Linked DNA regions of Homo sapiens. The protein of the gene in region 1 interacts with the protein of each later gene in a pairwise test. Each region holds a gene or a part of one and is shown on either strand. Other genes may lie near its edges. The genes, in order: ERRFI1, PLEKHA3, GNPDA2 and GTF2H2.

Evidence for each region.
Region 2: the proteins of ERRFI1 (region 1) and PLEKHA3 interact in a two-hybrid assay, tested with the Homo sapiens proteins (one study listed by BioGRID).
Region 3: the proteins of ERRFI1 (region 1) and GNPDA2 interact in a two-hybrid assay, tested with the Homo sapiens proteins (one study listed by BioGRID).
Region 4: the proteins of ERRFI1 (region 1) and GTF2H2 interact in a two-hybrid assay, tested with the Homo sapiens proteins (one study listed by BioGRID).

The regions. Positions count from the first base shown.
Region 1 is NC_000001.11:8,016,307-8,023,339, reverse strand, and holds part of ERRFI1 (ERBB receptor feedback inhibitor 1), read left to right. Parts: intron 1-3,266; exon of another isoform or gene 3,267-7,033.
Region 2 is NC_000002.12:178,511,424-178,516,963, forward strand, and holds the end of PLEKHA3 (pleckstrin homology domain-containing family A member 3), read left to right. Parts: 3' UTR 1-5,040; downstream 5,041-5,540. UniProt on the Homo sapiens protein: Plays a role in regulation of vesicular cargo transport from the trans-Golgi network (TGN) to the plasma membrane.
Region 3 is NC_000004.12:44,723,533-44,730,620, reverse strand, and holds the start of GNPDA2 (glucosamine-6-phosphate deaminase 2), read left to right. Parts: upstream 1-4,064; 5' UTR 4,065-4,147; intron 4,148-7,088. UniProt on the Homo sapiens protein: Catalyzes the reversible conversion of alpha-D-glucosamine 6-phosphate (GlcN-6P) into beta-D-fructose 6-phosphate (Fru-6P) and ammonium ion, a regulatory reaction step in de novo uridine diphosphate-N-acetyl-alpha-D-glucosamine (UDP-GlcNAc) biosynthesis via hexosamine pathway.
Region 4 is NC_000005.10:71,057,651-71,064,683, reverse strand, and holds part of GTF2H2 (general transcription factor IIH subunit 2), read left to right. Parts: intron 1-1,887; 5' UTR 1,888-1,920; coding exon 1,921-1,976; intron 1,977-2,917; exon of another isoform or gene 2,918-2,918; coding exon 2,919-2,996; intron 2,997-3,375; coding exon 3,376-3,412; intron 3,413-3,753; coding exon 3,754-3,840; intron 3,841-4,513; coding exon 4,514-4,564; intron 4,565-4,939; coding exon 4,940-4,994; intron 4,995-7,033. UniProt on the Homo sapiens protein: Component of the general transcription and DNA repair factor IIH (TFIIH) core complex, which is involved in general and transcription-coupled nucleotide excision repair (NER) of damaged DNA and, when complexed to CAK, in RNA transcription by RNA polymerase II.

The DNA.
Region 1 (7,033 bases):
CACGACTGCACTACAGCCTGGTGACAGAGTGAGACTCTGTCTTTAAAAAATAAACAAACAAAAAAATGTGGGGCTTTGGCTACAGAAATGGAGCCCTTTTCAACTTGGAAACAATAGGAAGGTAAGGATTGGAAGACATTATCCAAAAGCTCTTATTCAATACCCCAGATGTGAAACTGGACTAGTTACAGATTGTTTTTTAAACAACTATTCGCTCAGTAGAATTGTCTTCTGACTCTTATCAGGGCTGCCTCTTTTTCAGCCTTTAGATTTCCATTTAAAAGTCACCTACTCAGAGAGGCCTTCCCAAACCACCTGTGTAAATATATGCTCCTCTGCCTCCTTATCCTATTGCTGCTGTACCCTGCTTGTTTCCTTGGAAGGTATCGCCATCTAAAATTGTTTGCTTGCTTGGCTATTCTCTTCCTCCCTCATTAGATGGAAGGCTTCTTCAGGCAGCAGCCATCTCTATTTTTCACCTCACATGGTGTCTAATCCAGAATAAGCACTTGATAAATATTTGTGAAAAGAATTAATCCTTGCCCTCTAAGAATTTTTGAGCTGAATGAGCACTATGAGTTGAGTTTCTGTTCCTGCCTCTGCTATTGACTAGCACTTAGGTCTTGAGCATTTAACTTAACAGCCTTTTGCTTCAGTTTCTCCATTTATAAACAAGAATGTTACAAGGAGAAATGAGGTTGTTGCCTAAAATGAAGATACTATAGAGTGGAGAGGTAGTGAAAGTGTGGGGAAAATGCTGGATTATAGTACAGAAGAGCCATGATCGCCCTTTTGCTTATAGCAAGATATTTAACCTCACTTTGTTTCCTCATCTGCAAAATGGAGATTCTAATCCCTGCCTCTTCTTACAGGGATGTTGTGGGGATCAAGTGAGATAATGTGTAAGAAGGTGCTTTGTAACTTGTTGAGTGCTTTACAAATATAAGGTATGCTATTGTTAAATTCCGGATTTTACAATACAGTGTGATTATAATGCCATCATTGGGATCCATGCTGTGAAAGCATGTTAAAAGGAGGCCCGTTGGGTATATGTAGTAACCGCTTATTACGAGTAAAAACAGACTTGTGTTATATGAAATAACCATGTTGTAAAGAGTTCTGTTGTGGTGGGGCATCCGTGGATCGTTAAAGACTGAGGGCTTCAAAATAGTTGTTTGAAGTGGTAATAGAATGTCAAATTGATGCCTTAACCCACCCATTTTAGAGGATACATAGGCCAGATCTACAATTAATAACTTTTAATAGGAGAATTTGAGGGAGTTGAAGTGAAACAGGAACTTTCATAGGCTACAGGTTACCCAAGAAAAACTATTACCAGTAAATCCATAAAAAAGGATCTGTGCTACCCTTACAAGTTGAGCAGTATAGTCAGTCGGATCCTACTTCGCCAGTTTAAAAAGCCGTAGGGACAGGAAGAGGCAGTGTGGTGTGTTGGTGAAGGGCCTGGACACTGAGGCCGGGCTGTCTAGTTGAAGTCCTGGCCCCATTGCTCACCAGTTTTGACCTTGAGCAAGTTCTTTAACTCTGTGCCTCAAGTAAGTGAGAGTAATAATAGTAGCCCACCTTATGGCATTGTAGAGAGGATTAAATGAGTTCATACACATAAAGCACTTAGAACCATGCTTGCCTGGCAGTTGTATGTCCAGTGAATGTTAGTTATCATTAATGGTTTTATATTAATTGTAACAATCTAGAGTTACCCATCGGGTAACTTAAATGCTTGTTAAATAAATTTGAAGTTTTAAAGACTTGCGTCCCATCATTAGACCATTGTGCTCGTTGTCTTTAGATTAGAATTCACTTTTATAGTAAGAAATAATCTATTGTTATATGTCAAAAAGAAATAATATTTTTCTCCCCTCTGTGTGTATATATAGTTACTGATTGTGCTACTCTGTAGGAGAAATACAAAGGACAAAAGAATGTATTCCTGCTATCCTACTTTTCTGCTGTCACACTAAAATTGTGTGGGAGGCTTAAGTGAGTTGAAAGACTGGATTATGGTAGTTGAGGGAATGGGTTTTTTGTTAGTTTACCATTTTTTAAAATACTTAGCTAGAAAGCATTCTGAATTATTGAATAAATTACGTCATTTATTTTTTATTTGACAGTTTGAAGATAAATTATTTTCTCTGTTGCCTCTATTTCACCACCTACAAATGGTCCATTATGTTCTGGACATGTTTAAGAGCCTCTGAGGAATGGAGCTGCAAACACAGACACAAATGTTCATCTTTGCCACACTGAACTATATTTTAATGTTTACTGAAGCCATCAAGCTTTTCTTGAATTCATGCAGGAGTATTTTAATTACATTAAAACATGGCATTATTTTAAAAGTAATCTATGTTTTTAATTTAAAGGCTACTTATGCTTACCATGGTAGAGAGTACAACTAAGGAAGTTTTCTTAACTTGCCTCCCTCTTTCTTTTCCTACCCCTACCTAAATCATAGGCTATTAAAATGAAATCTGGGCCGGGCGTGGTATCTCACGCCTGTAATCTCAGCACTTTGGGAGGCCGAGGCAGGAGGATCACCTGAGGTCAGGAGTTTGAGACCAGCCTGACCAATGTGGAGAAACCCCATCTCTACTAAAAATACAAAAATTAGCCTGGCGAGTTGGTGCATGCCTGTAATCCCAGCTACTCGGGAGGCTGAGGCAGGACAATCGCTTGAACCTGGGAGGTGGAGATTGTGCTGTGCACCATTGCACTCCAGCCTGGGTGACAAGAGTAAGACTCCGTCTCAAAAAAAAAAAAAAAAAATTGGTGTTTTTTTGTTTGTTTGTTTGTTTTAATTTCCTCACAGGTGATTATTTTAGACATTTTAAAAAATAAACATGCAGAGATTGGTATATTTGGGGAGGATCTAAAATCATGGAGTTTGTCATATTCCTAAATCAGTTTCCTTTTATAAATTTTGCCTTTAAATGTAGTTACCTTATTATCTTCCTTGGTTATGGAAGTACTTAATGTAGGTGATTCTTAAATGGAACTGAAAAGACCATTTATCACCCTGAATAAACAGAAATCAGGTTCTAGAACCAGATTGAAAGGAGGAAATTACATCACACTCTTAAATAAGGAAGCACTGGGCAGAACTGGATGAGTTGTATGACAAAAATGTGCCCCTCCTCCTCCCATGGATGGCTTCTGAGATTTATTAATGAGATCTGGTGGCCAGGTAAGCATATCTAGGTTACTGCCTTAAGGTAGCCTGCATTTTTCTTTTTTTTTTTTTTTTAAGCAGTTTCAAAGAGACTGTCCTCAAGCTAAAGGCATATGATTTCACCTTAATGAAGAAGGTGCAGTGTGCTTTTGGTGTAACTTTTTTAGAAAAATGAAAGTCACCTTAAATTCAGCAGCAAAAACACAGTCTAGAAGGAATAGTGTTTTAAGAGAAGGCAAAACACTGTTTTAAGAAAGTACCCCCCCAATTGCTTCAAGTAAATATACTGTAACAGAAACCAGTTTAGAAAGCTACACTGTTAACCACTGAAGCTTATAATTTTTACTCAGTCTACAAACTGTCTTCTTTGAATTCTGGAAATGAATTTCATAAAAATTCCTTCCTGTTACATATCCTAAGGTTGTTACATTATTATTGGGCAGTCGCCTCACTCCAGCACGCATTAACTTTATCCTTTATAAATCTGCTTCTCCCCTGAGCTCTTCACTGACTCACAGTGTATGTGAATCTTTCATGTCATTACTTTTTAAAAATGAGATGGATATTTTCTCAGTATCCATTTAATAAATAATAGACATGAATGATGCCAAGATCTACAGGGGGAAAGCATAAATCAGACATCAGTTCTGTCCTAGATGATTTGAAGAGTGGAAGGGGAATTGGGGCCCAGCACAAAATAACACAAGAACAGAGCACCGCTGCTCCAGTGTTTCATGAAAGGGAGCGGCTTCATGGAGAAGGCAGGGTAGAGCTGACCTTAAAGGATGAATCGAATTGTAACAGAGATTTGGGGAAAATAGAAGCGCGCTTGAAAATATAGATTAGGTTTATATTGTGGAGGCCCTAAATTGCCAGGCTGAGGAGGTTTTATTTAGGAGCCTTTGAAGGTTTTTTGAGCAGCAGCAAATCTTAGCTTGAGCTGTTGTTAAGGAATATTGACTTGGTACTAGTGTTGTAGAATAGGTTGCATATTGCCAGACCCCAGGAAGAATGATGCCTGTCAATGGAAGGGTAAGATTTGAGAAACCATGTAAAAGTAGTCTGTGGAACTTGGCAATTGAATGTACATGGCCTCAGGTTAAAAATGGTGCCTTGAGAAGTGTGATCCTCTTAGACCCTGAACTGGTTTGGGGAGTGGGGAATGGAGTATGAAGTGAAAGGAGGAGTTTGGTTTGTAGAGTTTGAGATGCCAGAGGGCCATCCAAGTGGAAAGATAATCACCAGACAATAGGAAATGCAAAGTTGAAGCTTGAGCCAGGCTGGAGTCATTGATTCAGGAGCTGTCTATGAGTTGAAGCTATACAAGTGGATTAATAAAAGGATAACCTCAAGAAGCAAATGATTTTAGGGCTTCTTTTTTCGTTGAATTTAGAAAAGAATCAAGTTAACAGGAAAAGGTGGTTCACATCTGAAATTTGGTATTTAACTGCATTTTAGACCCACTAAAAAAGCTAAAAATAGTTGATGAAGTTTGGAGAAGTTATGCTGAAGGTTATTTGGGTCCCCGTCTAAACCATGCTGTCTGGATTCACATTCGCTTTCCTATTCTTGGATTCCATAACATAATCCCATCTTGTACTTTTTAGATACTGATTTCCCCACATAGGTACATTTTTGCAATTGTTTTCCTCTAATGAGTTGTAAGACAGATAAAATGTGAAAAATTGGCATTAAACATCACTTGGGAAGAGTTTGTTTCTTTTTAGCTTGAGGTTGGTAAAATGGATTTATTTACTCCGCGCCCCCCCCCCCCCCGCCCCCCGCTTCCATTTGTGCTGAATACTAGAAGGTTTTTAGAGAGAGAGAAAGTTTCAGGTGGTTTCATACCCTCAGTTTACAATCTGAGAAACATTTTTTTTAAAAGCTTCCTTCCAAACCTATAGCACATTGCCCTTTTTGAGTCTACAGTTTGAAGTTATTTTCCAAAAGAAGAGAACATGGCAGTTATATTGCCCCCCTCGTCTCCCATGCTAGCAAGTAGGAAGTTCGGACAGTTTCATAACATGGCCCATTCACAATTCCCCATTGAAATTTAGAGGCAGGTCACCTTCTATGAATACACAAAGACACTATTGTGGTCAGAAGTGAGCTGGCTTAGTGAACACAATTCTTTTTATACTAAAAAAATTTTTTTCTTAAGAAAGCTAACAAGTAGGTGATGGAAACAATGAATAAAAAATAACTTTTTCTAGAACATATAAATAATTTTAAGTGACCATTGAAATGTAAGTTTAGAATTCCAAGGCAATTTCTGCAGAGGCGATAGTTACACAATCATTCTGTTGAAAGCTAAGATTTAGATGGCATTAGGAGGCTGACACACAGTAATTACTAGTAGTACTTGTTGGCTTGCAGACAGGTGGGGGTTGGGCCTGCAGAATCCCCTGCAGCATTTTCCTGTAATCTGGATGAGCGATCTTCAAACGTGTGCTTTCAAACTACTTAAATACCATATTCTTCCTATCTTGCCTTTCATTTTTATATTACCACAGATACTTTCCTCATAGTCTTGCCAGTGCTTGTAGAATGCTTAGAAAAAGCTTGATAAACCACTGGGCTAAGTACACAGAGGGAGAGGCTAGCAGTATTTTTAAATTGGTTTCTAAATTTTTTATAGCTTGATGGTAGATAACACATTTGCTTCATTGAAGTAATCTGAAAAACCAATCCTCAAAAGACCTCTCAATTAGAATTCTTAAATGACAATGTTTTCTTTATCATATATTTGAGAGATTGATTTAAAGAAAAATAATGCTTGACTATCTGAAATAATATTTTAACCCTATCATAAAATCTCTGCCTGGTAGAACAGCTGACTGTGGAAGGGTAAAATGCAGAGAACCAGTCATTGGATCTCCCTTCTCTACTTTGTTACTGAAATCTTGAACCTGTAGAACATTACTTATCACTGTGTTCCTTTCTAATGGGAAAATAATAATAAACACTTGCAGAGTATTTTTTAAAAGTTTTTAGCTTTAAAAAAAAAAACCCTGTGCCTTACACAATGTGTATATTGAGTTGATACTGATTATGATAATTAGATGGTATTATACAATCATTCATTCAGCAAACATTCACTTACTGAGCACCTACTAATGTTCCAGGTACTGATTGTTAAAAGGTGATTGAGACACAGCCTCTGTCCTGAGCTTAGTCTAGTAGGAGGTGACAGATTTGTAAATAATAGATTTGAAGTTGCTGAGCAAAAAAAAAAACAAAAAAAAAAACCTGTGTACCTCTCCCCCACAGCAAATGTGTCACATTTGCACAGTGCCCAGCCTTTGCACAGTGCCCAGCACTCAGCTGTGCAGATATTATTTGCACTGATCCCTTACTAATATTTAGTGAGAGAATGAGATCGTGTTAAAGAGTGTATATGTACGTGCCCCCAAAAGGGGTCAGTGTTACACAATAGTTGACAAATAATATCCTGGTGCCTAAGGAAAAAAACCTAAACTTATAAATAAACTTGGCTATCTGAAGACAGCAGAGATTGATGCTGACTAACACATAACGAATAATAAAAAAGGAAAGTGAAAAGGGGGCTATAGGGACTCCAGACCTGTAACATCTGACAAAGGGGATTGGCGGTCCTGAAGTTGAGGAACTACTAATTTAAGAAAAATGTACTTATTTTGTTATCCATGCCTTGCAGCTAAGCAAGATATGAGTTACTGGGTGTTTCACAAAGGAGGATGTAAAGAATGTACCTTTAACTTGTCTTTAAAAGGGAGGGAGGAAGCTGTCCCAGGCTTTTACTGAAGCCAGTAATCTTGCAGAACTTGATTTTTACAGGATAATGGAAATTAGTATCTTCATATA
Region 2 (5,540 bases), on another chromosome or scaffold:
AGTGCAGTGACACGATCTTGGCTCACTGCAACCTCCACCTCCGGGGCTCAAGCAATTCTCGTGACTCAACATCCCAAATAGCTGGGACTGTAGGCACGCACCACCATGCCCAGCTGATGTTTTGTATTTTTACAAAAATTTTTCACCATGTTGGCCAGGGTGGTCTCAAACTCCTAAGCTCAGGAGATCCGCCTGCCTCAGCCTTTGAAAGTGCTGGGATTACAGGCGGGAGCCACCGTGCCCGACCTGACCTCTCCATCTTTGGCGTCCTTATGCTGCCTCTTCTCCAAATACATGTTGGCCAGGGTGGTCTCAAACTCCTAAGCTCAGGAGATCCGCCTGCCTCAGCCTCTGAAAGTGCTGGGATTACAGGCGGGAGCCACCGTGCCTGACCTGACCTCTCCATCTTTGGCGTCCTTATGCTGCCTCTTCTCCAAATACAGTAACTAATCTAGTATATTTTCATAGGATAGAATTTGCCCTTTCTGTCCCATAATATGTTCCTCTTCCCCAAAAAGTTTTTTGTTGGTCTCTTTGGTAATAAAACATTTAGAGCATTTACTGTGGGCCAGGTGCTTTACCTCATGTTAGCCTTATAACAGAGATGCGGAAGTACAGGACTACCAGTGCAGCCAAGATGCACAGCACCAGGATTAACTCATGAGACTGATTAGAATGATGAATATCTTATTGTATCCTGAAACATTAAGCCTTTAAGTTATCCCTTTATTTAGTATTTAAATTCACATGCTTCTTGATTTTTTTGGACTAGCATTAGTTGTTGAATAAATAAATAATTCAGAATGTATCCACAAAACCTAGAATATATGACAGGGTGGATTCAGTTTTGCTTAGTTACTGTAGATAAACCAAATAAATTAATGTAAAGGGATATTAATGCATTAAGCAATTTTTTTTGACATAAATGAAGGGTTGTTTCCATGGGTAATATATTCAGAATATTAAAGATGAGTAAAATGTATGACTATAATGAATTCCTTCTTCACTTTTACTCTGGCAAGGTGGGAGGAGGGTGCTGTTGATAATCTCTGTGCTTTTGCAAGTTTGGCACAAAGACTTTTACTCACTTAAATCTCAATATAAAGTATATTGCCAGATCTGGCAGCATGGGGACAATTAGGAACAAAGGAGAGAGAATAGAATCAGCCATCAGGAGCTATAACCACACTCTTCTTTCTCAACCTTTTCTGGTATTAGTAGGCAGAACTCCTTTTGGATGCGGTGAAGCATTTTATGAGTGAACAATGGTGAGTCATGTAATGAAAGGAGATGTTCTAGGAAAACTTTTCAGTCCCGCTCAGTGCTGCCATCTTTTTCTCCCAGCACTCTGGACTTAAAATTCTGAGAGAACAGGGTATTTCCCACCCTTCCTCTTACTTTTTGAAAGCAATACCTGAGTTATTAAGCAATCATTTAGACAGTATGAATAAACCAAAATTCACCTTGACACTCCATCCCCTAGAGGTAACCATTCTTTTCTAGTATATATTCTTCCAGACCTTTTTCCTGTGTATTGACTTTTAAATAGATGTACATTGCAATAGTTTGGATTAGCTCATCCATAGCAGGGTGGTTAAATAAACAGTGGCACTTTTTTTTTTTTGAGACAGAGTCTCACCCTGTCGCCCAGGCTGGAGTGCAATGGCGCGATCTCGGCTCACTGCAACCTTTGCTTTCCAGGTTCAAGCGATTCTCCTGCCTCAGCCTCCCAAGTAGCTGGAATTACAGGCGAGCACCACCATGCCTGGCTAATTTTTGTATTTTTGGTAGAGACGGGGTTTTACCGTGTTGGTCAGGCTGGTCTCGAATGCCTGACCTTGTGATCTGCCTGCCTTGGCCTCCCAGTGTCAGGATCCTGGCCCCAGTGGCACATTTTTATGATGCATCTGGTACTAAAGAAGGAGCTGGCTTTATGACCTTTACTTGAGTATTTTTTTGTGTGTGACAGTTGAACAATTCTGACCCCTATTATTGTTGGCTGGACAGGCATTTTCTTTTTAATTCCTCTATGCAAGGAACTGTGGATTGCTTTTTTCTGGATAGCTAGAACGAGGCCATTTTCTTTCAAAAGACAGTCCTAGAGTTTCCAGTGGTTTTCTTTAATTGTGTATGCGTGAGTGTGACAGTGTGTGTGCCTGTGTCTCTATCTGTGCATGCATCTGTATGCACAGTTTCTTAGTTGTGGACAATGCAACTTGGAATCATTTTAGTTTTCCAATTGATTTTAAAAGTTTATCTATAGAAGATGAGACAAATTTGCTGTAGAAGTTACCACTACTTGGTCAAAATAGAGAGTTGTGGGTTTTTTTTTTTGTTTGACAACAATCAAAAGTATGGCCTACAGATAGTAAGGGTTAACCACCCAGATTTTTGTCAGATAATATATACATGTCCATGTAATTAAAAGTCTTCATTTGACAAATTTATATGGTAAATGAGCATAAAATGAATATCTTTTCAGTATTAGAACATTTCTGTTTATGCCCTATTCCAGTGGTATTTGTGGTCGCTAGGGGTTGCTGGGTTATCCAAGTGATTCAGCATGCCTTCAGAATTGGCATCCTCGGGTGATTGTCCATAGCCTCTTGCAATGGTGCCTCATCTTGGGGAGGCTTTAGAACACAGCTCTCATTTAGCTTATTATTGATTTTTTTTTCTTGTTTTGCAGTTGTTGGCTAGAGAAAAGTGTGTAGCAATAAGTACGCACACTTACTGTGGTTTACCATCATGACCATGGATAGCAAACTGCCTTTTTTTTTTTTTTTAACTCCTGTGTCATCTCTGATGTTGTGGCTAATTTTAAGACTTTGATTTTTCAGCTAGGATTAGCGGAGAATGACCTACCTACTTGATTAATGATGTCTGCATGGGCTTACTAAGAGGGTGTGGGGAATGGTGGCAGGGGTAACTATCATCGAGAATATAGGGCAATGGGTATATTCTAACTTTGCATAACTTTGCTAGATTATATATATCTTTACTCACAATAAGCAAAGTTGAACAACTTAAAATTGATTCCCTGTTTTCTGTTTTCACTATCCAACTAGGATGAACTCTTAAGTTCATACATATACTTTAAAATGGGAACAAACATAGCCTGTCATGTCTTTATTTAGGCTAAGTGCATATGTATGTATAAGTAATGTGTATATCCTTCACTTATTAATAGTGCCTTCATGAATTCAAAGACCCTTGTCACATGGTGCTCAGGAAAAAAAAAGTGCCAATATTCTTTTTTTTTTTTTCTCTAAGAAGTACTAGTTTAGGTAAGTGAAATTCAATAGCATATCAGTGCTTTACCTTAGTCACTTTTTGTGTTTTGATCACCCTTAGTCATCACTGGAGAGAAGAGTTTGAATTCATTTGTGGTTTTGCTTTAGTGGCAAACCTCCTTACAGGGATGAGTTGCCCTCCATTCTCCTTGCCATATTTGGTTAATCTAGGCCATGACCTTTGAGGGGAAAAGGCACAGATTGCAACTTTTCTTTCCTGCTTTTGTGAATCAGGCCATGTTCACGCAGGGTCCTTGAAGGTGACTTGAGTGAGGAAGCTATATACCGATGACTTACCAATTTTTGGTCTTATAACATTCTCTCTCTTTTTTTTTTTTTTTTTTTGTAGCATATGGCTTCCTCTACTGTATGTTGGCATTTGCCACTTTTGGGGATTTGACTCCTGCAGGTATTTTTTTTTTTTTCTTTTGGGGGAGTGTGACGGCAGTGGATATAGTCTTAGATGATGTTTTTAATAGTTCAAGTCCATTAGTGTCTTACTCTAGAGAAAACGAAAGACTCACTGTGTGAGTTTTCTTGCCCTCTGGTTTTCAGAATTCTGTGTAGTTTCTCAACATTTCCTTTCTACCTGTCCTGAAGAGCTCTTATGGAAATCATGGTTGAATGTTAGTAAATTTCTAAGAGCTTTCCAATGTTGTCTATAATTAGCCAAAAAAAGACATATGAACTTTTCTCATTCTGTCTACCTTTTTAAAATTTTATTCACTTTATCTTTTTCTCCAGTTTTGATAGATGATTATAGAGTTCCCCAAAATGGCCTTCTTACTATTTCTATATTAGGTATATTATTTCAGAAAAGAAAATAATCACTTGGGAATGGCGGTGAGTTCAGGGGGTCTGTTAACCATTTAATTTAGGATTGTTTATACATTTATTTACCTCTTTTAAAAAATTTCTTCAGTTAATATTCATTGACCACTCACTAAGTGTTATGTTGCTAGTATTTATCTTTGCTTTCTAATTATTTTTTTGTAATTTTTTTGCTTTCTAATTCTTGAGTGAATTTAAAACTCACTGCTTTATTATTTAATATCTTAGATACAATGACTATCTTAATTATAATTGGCTTTCCAAAATTTTCACTTTTTTTCAGTTAACTAGTTGAATAGTATTTATCATTCACATTTGCACCCTAACTATTGTTTTAACCTAAACATAAATAAGCAAGCATTAGAAAGTAGCATAATTGCTGTTAAAATAGTCTTTTCTTTGCGTGTTTAAATATTGTTAGAAACATAAGCACATGAATTTTTTTGGCCTTTTAAATGTCTTTATTGTAGCTAGTTATAAGATGTATATATAGCTTATATATGTGTATATACACATACATATATATATATACATACATATATATACATAAAATGATTCTTGCAAAAGTAGTTATGGGTATTTAAGTGAAAAATTTGTAAGTTTAGAAGTTAAGAAATTGGAAATAATGGAATTGGTTTAAAAAGCTAGTCTCTAAATTAACTTAGAAACCTAATAGCAAATACAGATTTTGATTGCTATAACTAAACACTTTAATTTTGAAAAAGTTTCAGAATAGAATTTCTATTCCCAGGGGAAAATAAACTTCATTTAAAAATATATGTATACTTATTTTGTGAGTATTTTTTTCTTTTCCAAATTCCAAAAGGTGTATACTCTATATTTTTGTCATAAAAATTCTGCTTGTCGAAAATATTGTAGTAATTTTATAAATTCAATAAAACCTGAGTGATGTGAACAGTGTGGGGGAAAATGTTTAATAAATTTGCCATGCCACTGAGAAAAACTTAAATACAGCATGTTTTGAAAGTTTGAGGAAGCGTAACACTTTGCTTTTTAAAAACGTGACTGGTTTGCTGCACATTTAAATTTAAAAGCTGGTTGGCTATTTTAAGATTAGTGCTGTGATGTGAGAAAAGATAGTAGTGATGATAGCTAACCTTTAAACGAAAGCATACAGTGCATCACCTTATTTGTTTAGATCAGGAGTTCTCCATCTTGGCTGCACATTACAAACCCCCAGGGTGCAGCCAGGCACAGTGATTCACATCTGTAATCCCAGCACTTTGGGAGGCAGAGTTGGGCGGATTGCTTGAGCTCAGGAGTTCAAAACCAGCCTGGGCAACATAGTGAAACCTCATGTCTCCAAAAAAAAAAAAAAAAAAAAAAAAGAGCTGGACGTGGACGTGGTGTTGCTTGCCTGTAGTTCCAGCTACTCGGGAGGCTGAGATGTGGGGA
Region 3 (7,088 bases), on another chromosome or scaffold:
AGAAAATATGGTGCAAAGTGAAAGAAACAAGACAAAAAAAGGCCACATATGGATTCCATTTATATGAAATATCTAGAATAGGCAAATCCACAGAGAGAGGAAGTATACTAGTGGTTGCCAGGAAATCAGGTAGGGGAGGGAGAATTGGAAGTGACTGCTAACAGGTGATGAGGTCTCTTTTGATGTGGGGTGGGGGATAGAAATAGAAAAACAGAATTAGATAGTGGTGATGGTTACATATCATTGTGAGTATACTGAAAGTCACTGAACTGTATACTTTAAAAGCCTGAGTTTATAGTATGTGAATTACATCTCGATGAAAATTATGTAATAGATAACCTGAATAATCCTGTATTTATTCAGGAAATTGGATTTATAGTTAAATTTTTTCAAAAAAGAAAACTCTATGTACGTACGGCTTCTCTAGTGAATTCTATCAAGTATTTAAAGAATACATTATGTTACTATAATTCAACACAAATTATTCCAAAACATTGAAGAGGGAAATTTTCCCACTCAATTTATAAGTTTGTTATTACTATGATACTAAAACTAGACAAAGACTTCACACACAAAAAAAAACTAATAAACAAAAAAACTATGGACTGATATCCCTCATACACATAGGTGTAAAATTTTTAAACAAAATTTTAGAACATTGAACCCAACAATAAATGTATAAGAAAGACCCTGACCAAGAAAAACAATGACCAAATCTAATTTTCTCCAGCAATAAAAGTGCACTCAACATTGAATTCACCAACATATTAGAGTGGAAAACCATACAACCATTTCAATAGATACATAGAAAGTGTTTGACAAAATTCAACATCCATTGTTGATTAATAAAACAACTATCAGCTATTAGTGAAATGCCTGATACCAAGGCTGGGTAGGAAAAATACAAGGTACACTCAGAGTCGTTCCGTGTTGGAGTCTTCATAACATACAGTCATGCATCACTTAATTATGGGGATACATTCTGAGAAATGCATCTTCAGACGATTTCATTATAGTGTGAATGTTATACAGTATATGCACACAAACCTAGCATATATACACAAACTACACATATATGGTATAGCCTATTGCTCCTAGACTACAAACCTGTACAGCATATTACTGAATACGGTAAGCAATGTAACACAATGGTATATATTTGCATATCTAAACAAAGAAAAGGTATAGTAAAAAAAAAAGTATAAAAATTAAAAAATATTAACAGTACACCTGTATAGGACATTTACCATGAAAGGAGCTTGCAGGACTGGAGGGTGCTCTGGGTAAGTCAGTGAATGAGTGGTGAGTGAATGTGAAGACCTAGGACATTACTGTACACTACTGTAGATTTTATAAACAATGTAGAGTTAGGCTACACTAAATTTATAAAACGATGTTTTTTTTCTTCAATAGTAAATTTAATTTCCTGTAGCTTTCTTACTTTATATTTAAATTTTTAAAAAACTTTTTGGCCGGGAGTGGTGGCTCACGCCTGTAATCCCAGCACTATAGGAGGCTGAGGAGGGGGGACCATGGGGTCCGGAGATCGAGACCATCCTGGCTAACACAGTGAAACCCCGTCTCTACTAAAAACACAAAAAATTAGCCGGGTGTGGTGGCATGCGCCTGTAGTCCCAGCTACTCGGGAGGCCGAGGCAGGAGAATTGCTTGAATCTGGGAGGTAGAGTTTGCAGTCAGCCAAGATTGCGACACTGCATTCCAGCCTGGACAACAGAGTGAGACTCTGTCTCAGAAAAAAAAAAAACTTTTTGACTCTAGTAACAACGTTAAGGTTAAAACACACATTGGAGAGCTGTCCAAAAATATTTTGTTTCTTTATATCCTTATTCTATAAGTTTTTTTATTTTAAAATCTATTTTTAATTTTTTTCCTATTCAAATTTTTTTGTTAAAATGAAGACACAAACACACATGTTAGCCTAGGCCTACACAAGGTCAGGATTATCAATCTCCCTGTCTTTCACTTTCACATCTTATCCCACTGGAAGTTCATCAGGGCAATAATGCACATGGAGCTCTCATCTATAATAACAATGCCTTCTTCTGGAATACCTCCTGAAAGACCTCCTTGAGGCTGTTTTATAGTTAACTTTTAAAAATATAAATAGGGCCAAGCATGGTGGCTCACGCCTATAATCCCAGCACTTTGGGAGGCCGAGGCAGGCAGATCACGAGGTCAGGAGTTCGAGACCAGCGTGGCTAATAAGTGAAACCCCGTCTCTACTAAAAATAAAACAAAATTAGACGGGCGTGGTGGCAGCTGCCTGTAATCCCAGCTACTCAGGAGGCTGAGGCAGGAGAATTGCTTGAACTCAGGAGGCAGAGGTTGCAGTGAGCCAAGATTGTGCCATTGCACTCCAGCCTGGGTGACAGTGCGAGACTCTGTCTCAAAAAAATAAACAAATAAATAAAAATAAAAATAGAAATAGAATGAATACACTCTAAAATAATGATAAAGAGTATAATATAGCAAATACATATACCAGTAACATAGTCATTTATTATCAAGTATTATATCCTGTACATAATTGTATGTGCTAGACTTTTATGAGACTGGAAGCACAGTAGGTTTACACCTATGTAGCCACAAACACGAGTGGTGTTGCTCTACAACTTTACGTTTACTACAATGTCGCTAGGTGATAGGAATTTTTCAGTTCTGTTATAATCTTATGGGACCATTGCCAAATATCCAGTCCATTCTTTACCTAAACTTCCTTATGTGGCACATATCTGTAATTCAAGACTGTAATTCAGTCTCCACCTTTCTACAGCATTCTTTCTAAAACACGTATGTTCTAGTCTCTTATCTTCAATTCATAAAGCTTAAGTGACTCCCTATTGCCTACAATACAAAGCCTAAATTCTATGCATAGCCTACAAACTACTTCATCATTTTACCTCAATCTTTTTTGGAGAGACAGGGTCTTGCTATGTTGCCCAGGCTGGTCTCCAACTCCTGGGTTCAAGCCATCCATGCACCATGACCTCTGAAAGTGCTGGGATTACAGGCGTGAGTCACCGAATCTGGCCAAAAATCGCTTTTGCAAACTTACTGAAGGCGATAGTACTAATAAACCTGTCTATTATCAGTATGTGAGCAATGTTGCTGTTTGAAGCTAAATCAACGAGAATGTAACATCCTACTCTTCACTAAAGGATGCAAGAGGAGTCATTACATTCAAAGAAGCAGGCTGGATTTACAACCCAGGTGAAAAACTTCATATAACGAGTTTGAGGACACAGCGTTTTACATTTTTTTAACTTGTAGTTTCCACAGAAACAGAACCTTAAGTTGGCTAGGAGTCAAGATTGTATTGTTCCTAACAGAACCCTAAACGGTGTTATTAATGGAACAGTGTTCCTGATGGAACATGGTGAAGACACAACACACTTTTCTCCTTTTGAATGATAGCTGCTTTCTTTACAATAATTTCCACAGCCCAATTCCTTCCCACTCCTGTATAAACATCTGTGATACCCAGCTCAAAGCTGATTCCAGCTTCCCCTATCCCTTTCTTAGACTCATTCAGCAAAAGCCAGTACCCTATTATATAGTGTTTTCTCTTACTGAGACGCTCCCGATTTCCCATGGTACTGTTTGCCCTTTTGCAAACTTTGATGAGTTTTTTGACACAAGACGCTTATCTGTCATTGCGTTTGCAAATATGCATTCAATAGCTTGGAGTAGAGAGAGAAATGTATTCATAAATGGCAAATATATTCATGTTGCCAAACAGCAACATAAGCAACAAAGTACGTGTGAGCACTACGGTCTTACATACTAAATCTCATAAGCCTAAAGAATCTACTGCAAATCCCTCTTTGAAAGATGGGGGGGAGGGGAAAGTAGCGTAAAGTGATGACCCAGAAACTGCGATCTTCCAGGCAAGAAGAGCGCCCAGCCGCACCGCACTCGGACCGAACTCCTCGCGTCTCACCTCAGGCGTCCTAAAGGCGGTGCGCATGCGCAGCGCCCGCCAGCCACGCCGCGGTTCCTTCCTGCGCCTTTATCTGCATCCGGGTCCGTGGGATTCGCGCTCCACTGGTCAGCTGGGGTCGCTCTCGGGTGGTTGGGTGTTGCTTGTTCCCGCTGTTCCAGCATCGAAGAACCATTGGGTCTGCCGGTAAGTTTAGCGGGGGGTGCGGCGGGGGCGCCAAGAAGGGGACTCGGGTCGGGGGACCCGACGGCAACTTCGCCCTGTGCGGCCTTTGTGCTGAGACTGGGACGCCGGGCCGGGGCGGAATGGGTGCTCAGGAACCTCGAGGCTGGGGGCGCGTGGGGTCTCCCGTATTGCCACTCGCGGACCTGGTTGTCCTCTCCGGATTTGTGCCTACGGGAGAAGGCGTCCCTGCCCTCTCCTCTCTCGCGGCTTCTTCTTGACACCTCTCTCTACACTCGTTAAAAATTCCTAACAGTCATCCTCATTTGCATTCGCTGTCCTTTGCCAAGTGAGGGCCAGGCAAACGCGCAGCTGAGGGGAATCTGCAGCCCCCGCCTCCCGGGCAGGAACCACAGCCTTCTTTGCTGTCTCTCGTCCCTCCTCGGGTCGGTCCCACACGCGCGGCCAGGCCACCCTTACGCTTTCAGGACAGGTCAGGTTGAGTAGGGAAAAGCTCAGAGCAGAGGTTCTGCAAGTGTAGATTCTGGTCTTGGCCCCGCCATTAACTAGCTGTGTAACTTCACGGGTGTAGAAGTTGTCATCCACCATTGAAGTTTTGCGATTTATATTCAGCAGCCCTTTTTCCTAGCGATGCACATCCAAAATGAATCAGCACCTGAAGGAAGACGAGGGAAAGGGTGGTGCTCTGTTGTTTTTTGATGCTGTCTTGTGATGCCAGAGAATTGCATAAGGCGACAATAGTTTGGATCTCTGAGGATTGGCAAAAACTGGAAAAGTCAAATCTTAAAAACTTAAATGTGGTGAAGAAATTCTTCTTTGCTCTGGGTGAAGGGATTCATTTGGGACTTTTGGAGGTGACTCTGCGCCCTCCAGAGAGTTTAAGAAAACAAAAAGTTGCCTGTACCTTGGTCTGAGAGACTTGCTTAAACTTCGTTTCAGTGAGATGTGTGGTGTTCTTAACAAATTTCACCTGATTATGAATATCCCCTGTGATAATTTGCAAAAGCAGAGATTCCTTGGACTTCATTTCAGATCTTTTGAAACACTGTGTCTAGGGAGAGGGACCTGAGAATCTGTATTTTTAACTAGCATCGTAAGTGATTCTCAACCGGTAAGACATCTTTGGCTAATGTCTCTTTGAGTCAGAAACACTTAGTTTTAAAGCCAGCTCCCCGGGCCACTTTTTAACGTCAGCAATAAACTTCTCGTAGTTGCAGTTTTCTGTATATGAAGAGTGAGAATAATGCTTTCAACCTCAGAGACAAGTGATTCTAAGCCCTTTGACAATAGAGTTAATCATTTTTGTGTCTACAGAACCTAGCATAGTGCTTAGAATATAATAGGTCTTCAAACGTGTGTTGAACTGAGAAAAATAACATGCCCAGGATGCAGAAGACATTGGAAAGCTCTAATGCTTCTCGTCCTCCTTACCTTATTTTTTTTCCGTTTTATTAACAATCAGCTGGCCATATATTCTTGTTAGAAGTAAATATATCTTTTGATGTTCATTACAGCCAATAATTCTTTCTGATTCTTTGGTTTAACTCTAAAATTGTTTTTGACATTAGATTATGGATTATATTTAAGTGGAGGCTGAGTCCAGTTGTTGGACTGAATTTATGACTTACTATGTAATTTATTTTCTGTAAATAAATAATTGTTATCGGGCCAGAATTCTAGATCATGGTGACCATGATTTTTTGTTGTTGTGTCAGAATTCGAAACTGTTACCTTCTTAAAGACATTTAGATTCCATACATTTATTTTAATAAGACCTTTTAATCTCATTAATTTAGAAAATTTGACTTATTACTCTATGTAAAGTGTGTGGGTACAAAACTCAGGAATGCTGAAACCATGTTATAAAAAGCTTGGTATTGGTGACTGATCCATTTAATATAAAAATAAGAATTAAAAATCTAAGAATTATGGGAATTATTACAGAATGTTCAGTAAATGTTATAAGGGGACGTTTATAAACTATTGATGGTAATGTCAGTTCAACTTCTGTAGAAAAAAGTATGAAGATTTCTCAAAGAACTGAAAATAGAACTACCATTTGATCAGGCAATCTCACTACTGGGTATCTACCCGAAGGAAAATAATTCATTATATCAAAAAGATACCCGCATTCATTTTTATCTCAGCACTATTCACAGTGAGGCAGTAGAATAGGGTCTGGAGGCAGAGGACTTAAGGCCAATTCGTGCTGACTTCCTAAAGCTAAATCAAAGGAAAACACCAAGGTCTGGGGGCAGGAAATCTAAGGCCAATTTGTGCTGACTTCCTAAAAGAGAAAACACCTGCGTCTGGGGGCAGGTAACCTAAAGCCAGTTAACCAATTAACGCAAACTTCCTAAAGCTAGACCAAAAGGAAAAAACCCATCTCCCCATGCCCAAGTAGCAAAGGACCAAAGGCTACTCTCCCTACGATCGACTGCCTTCCACCACCTCTCAGATGGAAGGGGAAAGTGCCTTGGATTGTCCGTGGACTAAGCATGGGCCATCCCTTCATCTGCATAGGGAGCCAATTCACCTCAGCCTTTAATTAGCCACGGACCAAATCCTTCATGCAGATAAGGGGTAACCGATAAGGGACCTCAAAAGGAGTATTAAAACCCAGAAAACTTTGTAACCGGACCCTTGAGCCGCTTGCTTGGGCCCACTCCCACCCCATGGGGTGCTTTCTTGCTTCAGTATCCCTGCTTTCGCTGCTTCATTCCTGTGTTTCGTTCCTTTTGTGCAGTTCTTTGTTCAAAATGCCAAGGAACTGGACACCTCACACTCATGACCTTCCTTCCAATAACAACAGTAGCAAAGATAAGAAATCAACCTGAGTGTCCATCAGTGAATGATTGGATAAAGAAAATGTGGTATATATATACACCGCGAAATTCAGCCATTGAAAATGAAATCATGTCCTTTGCAGTAACTGGAGGCCATC
Region 4 (7,033 bases), on another chromosome or scaffold:
TTTTTTTTTTTTTTTTTTGAGACGGAGTCTTGCTCTGTCACCCAGGCTGGAGTGAAGTGGCGTGACCTTGGCTCATTGCAGCTTCTGCCCTCCAGGTTCAAGGAATTCTCCTGCCTCAGCCTCCCTAGTAGCTGGGATTACAGGCACCTGCCACCATGCCCAACTAATTTATGTATTTTTAGTAGAGACGGGTGTTGCCATGTTGGCCTGACTGGTCTCGAACTCCTGACCTCAGGTGATCCGCACCTTGTCCTCTCAAAAGTGCAGGGATTACAGGGATGGAGCCGCTGCACCTGGCCCTGGCCTGTGTTTGTTTGTTTTGTTTTGTTTTCAACTTTTATTTTCACGGAGTACGTGTGCATGTTGGTTACATGGATAAATTGCTTGTTGTTGAGGTTTGGTATACAAATGATCCCGTCACCCTGGTAGTAAACATAGTACCTGATAGGCAGTTTTTCAACCCTCACTCTCTCCCATCCTTCCCTGTCTAATAGTCTCCAATGTCTGTTGTTCTCATCGTTATGTCCACGTGTACTCAGTGTTTAGTTTCCACTCGTAAATGAGAACATGCCGTCTTTGGTTTTCTGTTGCTGTTTTTTTTTAGGCCAGAGTGCAGTGGCACGATCTCGGCTCACTGCAACCTCTCTGCCTTCCGGGTTCAAGCAATTCTCCTGCCTCAGCCTCCTGAGTAGATGGGATTACAGGTGCTCGCCACCACATCTGGCTAATTTTTTTCTATTTTTAGTAGAGACAGGGTTTCACCATGTTGGCCAGGCTGGTTTCAAACTCCTGACCTCAGGTGATCCACTTGCCTTGGCCTCCCAAGTGCTAGGATTACAGGCGTGAGCCATTGCGTTGGGCCTCTGTTCGTGTTAATTCAATGAGGATAATGGCCTCCAGCTGTATCCATGTTGCTGCAAAAGACAGGATTTCATTGTGTTTTTTTTTCGTTGTTTTTTTGGCTGCTAGTATTCCATGATATATTACGTACCACATTTTCTTTATCCAGTCCACCATTTATGAGCATCTAAGTTGATTTGATGTCTTTGCTATTTTGGATAGTGCTGTGATTAATATGAGTGCTCTTGTACTTTTGGTAGAATGGTTTTATTTTCCTTTGGGTTTATACCCAGTATTGGGATTGTTGGATCGACATACATGTGTCCAATAAATATATGAAAAAATGTTCAACATCACTGATCATTAGAGAAATGCAAACCAAAACCACAATGTAAATCAAAACCACAAACCCATCTCACCACCAGTTAGAATGGATATTATTAAAAAGTCAAAAAATAACAGATGTTGGCAAGGTTGTGAAGAAAAGGGAATGCTTATCCACTGTTGGTAGGAATGTAAATTAGTTCAGCCACTATGGAAAGCAGTTTGGAGATGTCTCAAAGAACTATGTTTAATTTTGTGTCCTTTTTTTTTGAATTATGAGCTATAGCATTTACCCATTTATAAATAATAAATGTGATTTAAAAACTTTTGATTATGAGAAAACTGAGACATACACAGAGAGATAGTACAATGAATCACATGTCACTCAGCTATAATAGTTCAACTACGCCCATACTGACTCCTCACAAGTCTACAGTTTGTCATGTGACACATCTATAAAGCATTTTTGTTCTTTTACAAATCGTAAAAAGACGCTTATTTTTATTGGTACCAAGTTTGTGTATAAGTTCATATTATTTCTTGGAAATGAGAAATGGAGTTCTATGAAGATTTTTAAGACAATTATTGAGTAAAATACAAAGAATAAGATGACCTGGCATTCCATTTTTTTTTACTTCATATATGTGTCTAATTTTCAAATTTAATTGGATGAATTTTGTAACAAACATCTTTAGATAACTTACATTCTAATGGTTTTTACAGATTATTGAATAATAAAATACAGTTTTGAAAAAAATGGATGAAGAACCTGAAAGAACTAAGCGATGGGAAGGAGGCTATGAAAGAACATGGTAAGGAGAGCTTTATTGCCCTGTCTTTTCTTTTAGACAATGTCTTTTTTTTTCTTTACAACTTTATTAAAGTATATTTTACATATGTTAAAATTCACCCATTTCCAATGTACAATTCAGTGATGTTTTATTAATAATTTACTGAGCTGTGCAGCCATTATCATAAACCAGTTTTAGAATATTGTAACCACTCCAGTAAGATCCTTCACATTCATTTACAATTAATTTAAATCTTAATTTAATTCCACCTGTGGGCAATCATTAGTCTACTTTTTGTCTCCAAATTTTAACCTTTTCTGGACATTTCACAAAAATGTGATCATATACAATCATGTGCCACATAATGATGTTTTGGTCAAAGACAGACTGCATATATGACAATGGTCCCATAATATTATAATACTGTATTTTTACTCTACCTTTTCTATGTATGTTTAGATATACAAATACTGACCATTGTGTTACAGTTGTCTTAAGATATTCAGTATAGTAACGTGCTGTACAGGTTTGTAACCTAGGCGTGGGATAGGCTATACCATCTAGGTTTGTGTAAGTATACCCTGTGATATTCACACAATAATGAAATTGCCTAACAATGCATTTCTCAGAATGTATCCCTGTCAGTAAGCGATGCATGACTATAATAGTTGGTCTGTTGTGGCTGGCTTTCACTTATTTTTAAGACTCATCCATGATGCAGTGTGTATTAATACTTCATTCCTTTTTTATTGCTGAATAGTATTCCCATCTATGGTTATGCCACATTATTGTTTATCCATTCACTAGTCTGTGGATATTTAGGTTCTTTACAGTTTTTGACTGTTAGGAAAATGCAGCCATGAACACTTACATGCAAATCTTTGTGTGGACATATATTTTCATTTCATTTGGGCTAGTAATCATTTTAGCTTGTCTTTTCAAACAAATAATTATGACTTATAGGGAGATTCTTAAAGAAGATGAATCTGGATCACTTAAAGCTACAATAGAAGACATTCTATTCAAGGCAAAGAGAAAAAGGTATGTAACCTTCCTATGTATCTTAAAAAGGTAAAATATATTCATTTTAAGCCTTTCTATCTATAAATACTCCTCAGTACTTCATTTTAGCTGTGTTTCAGGGTAACTGACCTATTGCCTTCTGACTATGGGGAAAGAACTAGCCACCTACCCTTGCCCCAGCAGGAAATGGTCTTTAGAGACTGTCTACAATACCTATAATTGTGTGTATTGTATTCCATAAGTTAATTATTTACTCCACTAAAAATGCACGTTATGACATTCTTACTCAGAATTAGAAAAAAAGAAAAACAAAGGAGGTCAATTGGAAAGTTGTATTTTTTTTGTGGGGGGGGATAGTATATGGAATTACATTAAAATGTTTGTATAATTTTAACAGAGTATTTGAGCACCATGGACAAGTTCGACTTGGAATGGTATGTCATTATTTTTTCTTTTACTAGTACAGAACTAGTTTAGGTTAGAGAAACATTCTGTCTTGCTAGAAAAAACAATAGCAAAACAACAAAGTTTTTAAAAGAATATGTTAAAAATACGTGCATAGAATATGTAATTATTAAATGCCATTTTTACTAGTCAAAATGGCACTTGAGGCTGGGCACAGTGGCTCATGCCTATAATCCCAGCACTTTGGGAGGCCAAGGCAGGAGGATTGCTTGAGCCCAGGAGTTTGAGACCAACCTGGGCAACAGAACGAGACCCAGTTTCTACAAAACAAAACAAGTACTTGAAATTGGCCCTTTCTTTTTTCCGATAGATGCGCCACCTTTATGTGGTAGTAGATGGATCAAGAACAATGGAAGACCAAGATTTAAAGCCTAATAGACTGACGTGTACTTTAAAGGTAAAATTTAAGTTTATACTAAATCATTTAAATTTGTACCAAAATCACTTAAACTTTTACTAAAAAAGTGGGGAAGAACACTGGATTCTAAAGGATATTTTTAAAGAATGCAATATTTTTTATTTTTTGCCTTGTATTTTTAGTTAATGCTAATGATAGCTAAGTAGAAGTACTGCCAGGTTATTTAGGGAAATTTTAAACCAACATAGCTAATTATTTGTGTTTTTAATTTCTATCCTCCCACCCCACATCAGGATCTTGGTTTATCAGTTATCCCTTTTCTTTCTTGAATCTTCATTCTCCTTTGCCTTACTTAACTCTGTCTCCTCAGATTACAAATATGTTCGTATTCCTAATTTATCAAAACCTATTCTCAATTCTGCTCGTTCTCCCATCTCTCTTCATTGGATCTTTTCCTCATTGAAATTTCTTCTGACACATCCAAATGGTTCCATCTTTTAAAACCTAGCTCAAACCTATCTCATCACCCACCATTTCAAATTAACGTTTTTACTGTTTAATATTTTTATTACTTAACAGTTTTTGAAAATCTGTAAGTTTAAAAGTCATGAGAAGTGATGCTTGATTAACAGGTTTCACAAACATCAGTTGGACGTGTTCTTTATGATTGTTATTTTGCCTTTATCTAGTATGTCTTTTTTTGTTTAAACAGTTGTTGGAATACTTTGTAGAGGAATATTTTGATCAAAATCCTATTAGTCAGGTACGTATCTAAGTGATAGAATTCAGAATTAGATTCCTATTTTGCTTCCAAATGTAATTTATTTTTAAAAATTGGACATGTATTTTGTGAATTACCCAAATTGTTTAACCAGTTTCTGGTATACTTAAAAATGAAAAGCGTAATAACTCTAAAAGTTAAACGTAATGTGAACTCATAGCTAAATTTATTTGCCAAAAACAGCATGAGAAAAAGTTTCTCACCTGTTGCTTCTTTCTTTTGTAATTACTAGTTTATTTTAGCTATATAAATTATTTTTTTTTCTGCTCCAATATCATCTACAGGAATAGTTATATATATTCTTAATGGGAGGAAATAACTTGTTATATTAATAATAATTTTTGTTTTTATTTCAAGATTGGAATAATTGTAACTAAGAGTAAAAGAGCTGAAAAATTGACTGAACTTTCAGGTATGCATAAAATTACCTTTACATGACTCAAGGACTTTGCTTTATTTACCCAACCTCGTAGCCCTGTTTATATGGCTGCTTAATAAGTAACGTGAAGGGTGGTTCCTCTGTCTTCTCTAGGTGAAACAATTTAATAACATCTCCCCCACCATTATATTCTTAGGATACAAGGTTAACTATTCTAAATTGAGTTCTGCGTAGTGGTAAATAATACTACATTGAATATAAATGTTTTTATTTAAAATCTATATGTGCTTATCCTGAAATTTTTTTTCTTTCCTTTTTTTTTTTTTTTTTTTTGGAGATGGAGTCTTGCTCTGTCGCCAGGCTAGAGTGCAGTGGCACAATTTCGGATCACTGCAAAGTCCGCCTCACGGGTTCAAGCGATTCCCTGCCTCAGCCTCCTGAGTAGCTGGAACTACAGATGCCCGCCACCACGCCCTGCTAATTTTTTGTATTTTAGTAGATACGGGGTTTCACCATGTTGGCCAGTATGGTCTCAATCTCTTGACCTTGTGATCAGCCCGCCTCAGCCTCTCAAAGTGCTGGGATTACAGGCTTGAGCCACCGCATCCGGCCTTATCCTGAAAATATTAAAATACAGTTATTGTAATCATTTATAAAATCCAGTTAATCTTAAAATTAAATTCTTATAAAGTTAAGCATCTAATTTAAAAGGGAAAAAGTATAAAAATTAAACTGTAGCTATTGCTAATGAATCAATTTTTCTGCTTCCATGACATACCTAACTGAATTTTAGTTTCAAAACGTAGTAATGGCATTTTTTATTTGCTTTGGTATATATGCTGTTACAAATTTGCATCACTGATTCTATTTTATTTTCTGTGAAATACACTCTCCCTTAAATCTGGTTTTCAACCTTTTATCCTTGCCGGCACACATAAGGGAAATGACATACTTTCTTCATTAGTAGTTTTTCATTAAATGCAGTGAGGAGTGAAATGTACATTGGCCTGGAGTGATTCAAGAAACTCAGTTGTGAGTAACCAAAAGAATGTCACACTAGCTTAAGTGCAGAAGGAAAATTTTGGGCTATGTTCAAAGGTGGGCCAATTCCATATATAGTTGCTGCATATGTTGGGGTCCTGGCTTTGTCTGGCTTCATTCTCTGATAGATTTTCTGGAAGTTGAAAAGATGTCTCTTAATTGTCCCAGTCTACATTGTACCCGTAGCCTATAGCTTCAGCACACGTCTAGGGAGAACTCTGATTGGCCTGAGTTACGATCTGCCCATCCATGAACAAAGTGGCCAGGAAATGAAGTATTTTGTTTGTACGCTTCGATTGCCTGCTGATGCCCAGAGCAGGATAGAAGTAGGGTCAGCACCACATGAACTAAGCAGGATTATTATATAGTGGAAGAAGGATGGTTCCTCCAAGGTAGGAATATAAGGTCAATATTTTCCTCTCACTTTACCCACCCCGAGTTACCAGCAGTTTTCTATTACTTCTTTTTTTTTTTTTTTTTTGAGAAGGAGTCTCTCACTCTGTCGCCCAGGCGGTGCTGTCTTGGCTCACTGCAACCTCCGCCTCCCGGGTTCAAGTGATTCTCCTGCCTCCCCCTCCCGAGTAGCTGGGATTACAGGTGTGCGCTGCCACACCTGGCTAATTTTATTTTTAGTAGAGACAGGATTTCACCATGCTGGCCAGGCTGATCTCGAACTCCTGACCTCAGGTGATCTACCCACCTCAGCCTCCCAAAGTGTTGGGATTACAGGCATCAGCCACCATGCCCGGCCCCAGCAGTTTTCTATGGATGTTAGTGAAGTCATGTATAAAGATGAAAAATATTCTGGAGATTCTGACAGGCCTCTTGAAGCCACCTTTTTTTCCCTCCAATCAGACCACTGCTGTAAACCACACTGACACTATTGTAGTATGCTTTTTTCCTATACCCATAACACAGTGGGAGATTAAAAATAATTTTGTAGGGTAGGAAGAGAAGTGGATAGAGAGCCAGGAGATCTAGGTTTGGGTGCTGCTGGTCCTGCAGTTAAGCAGGCATATGTCTTTGGGCAA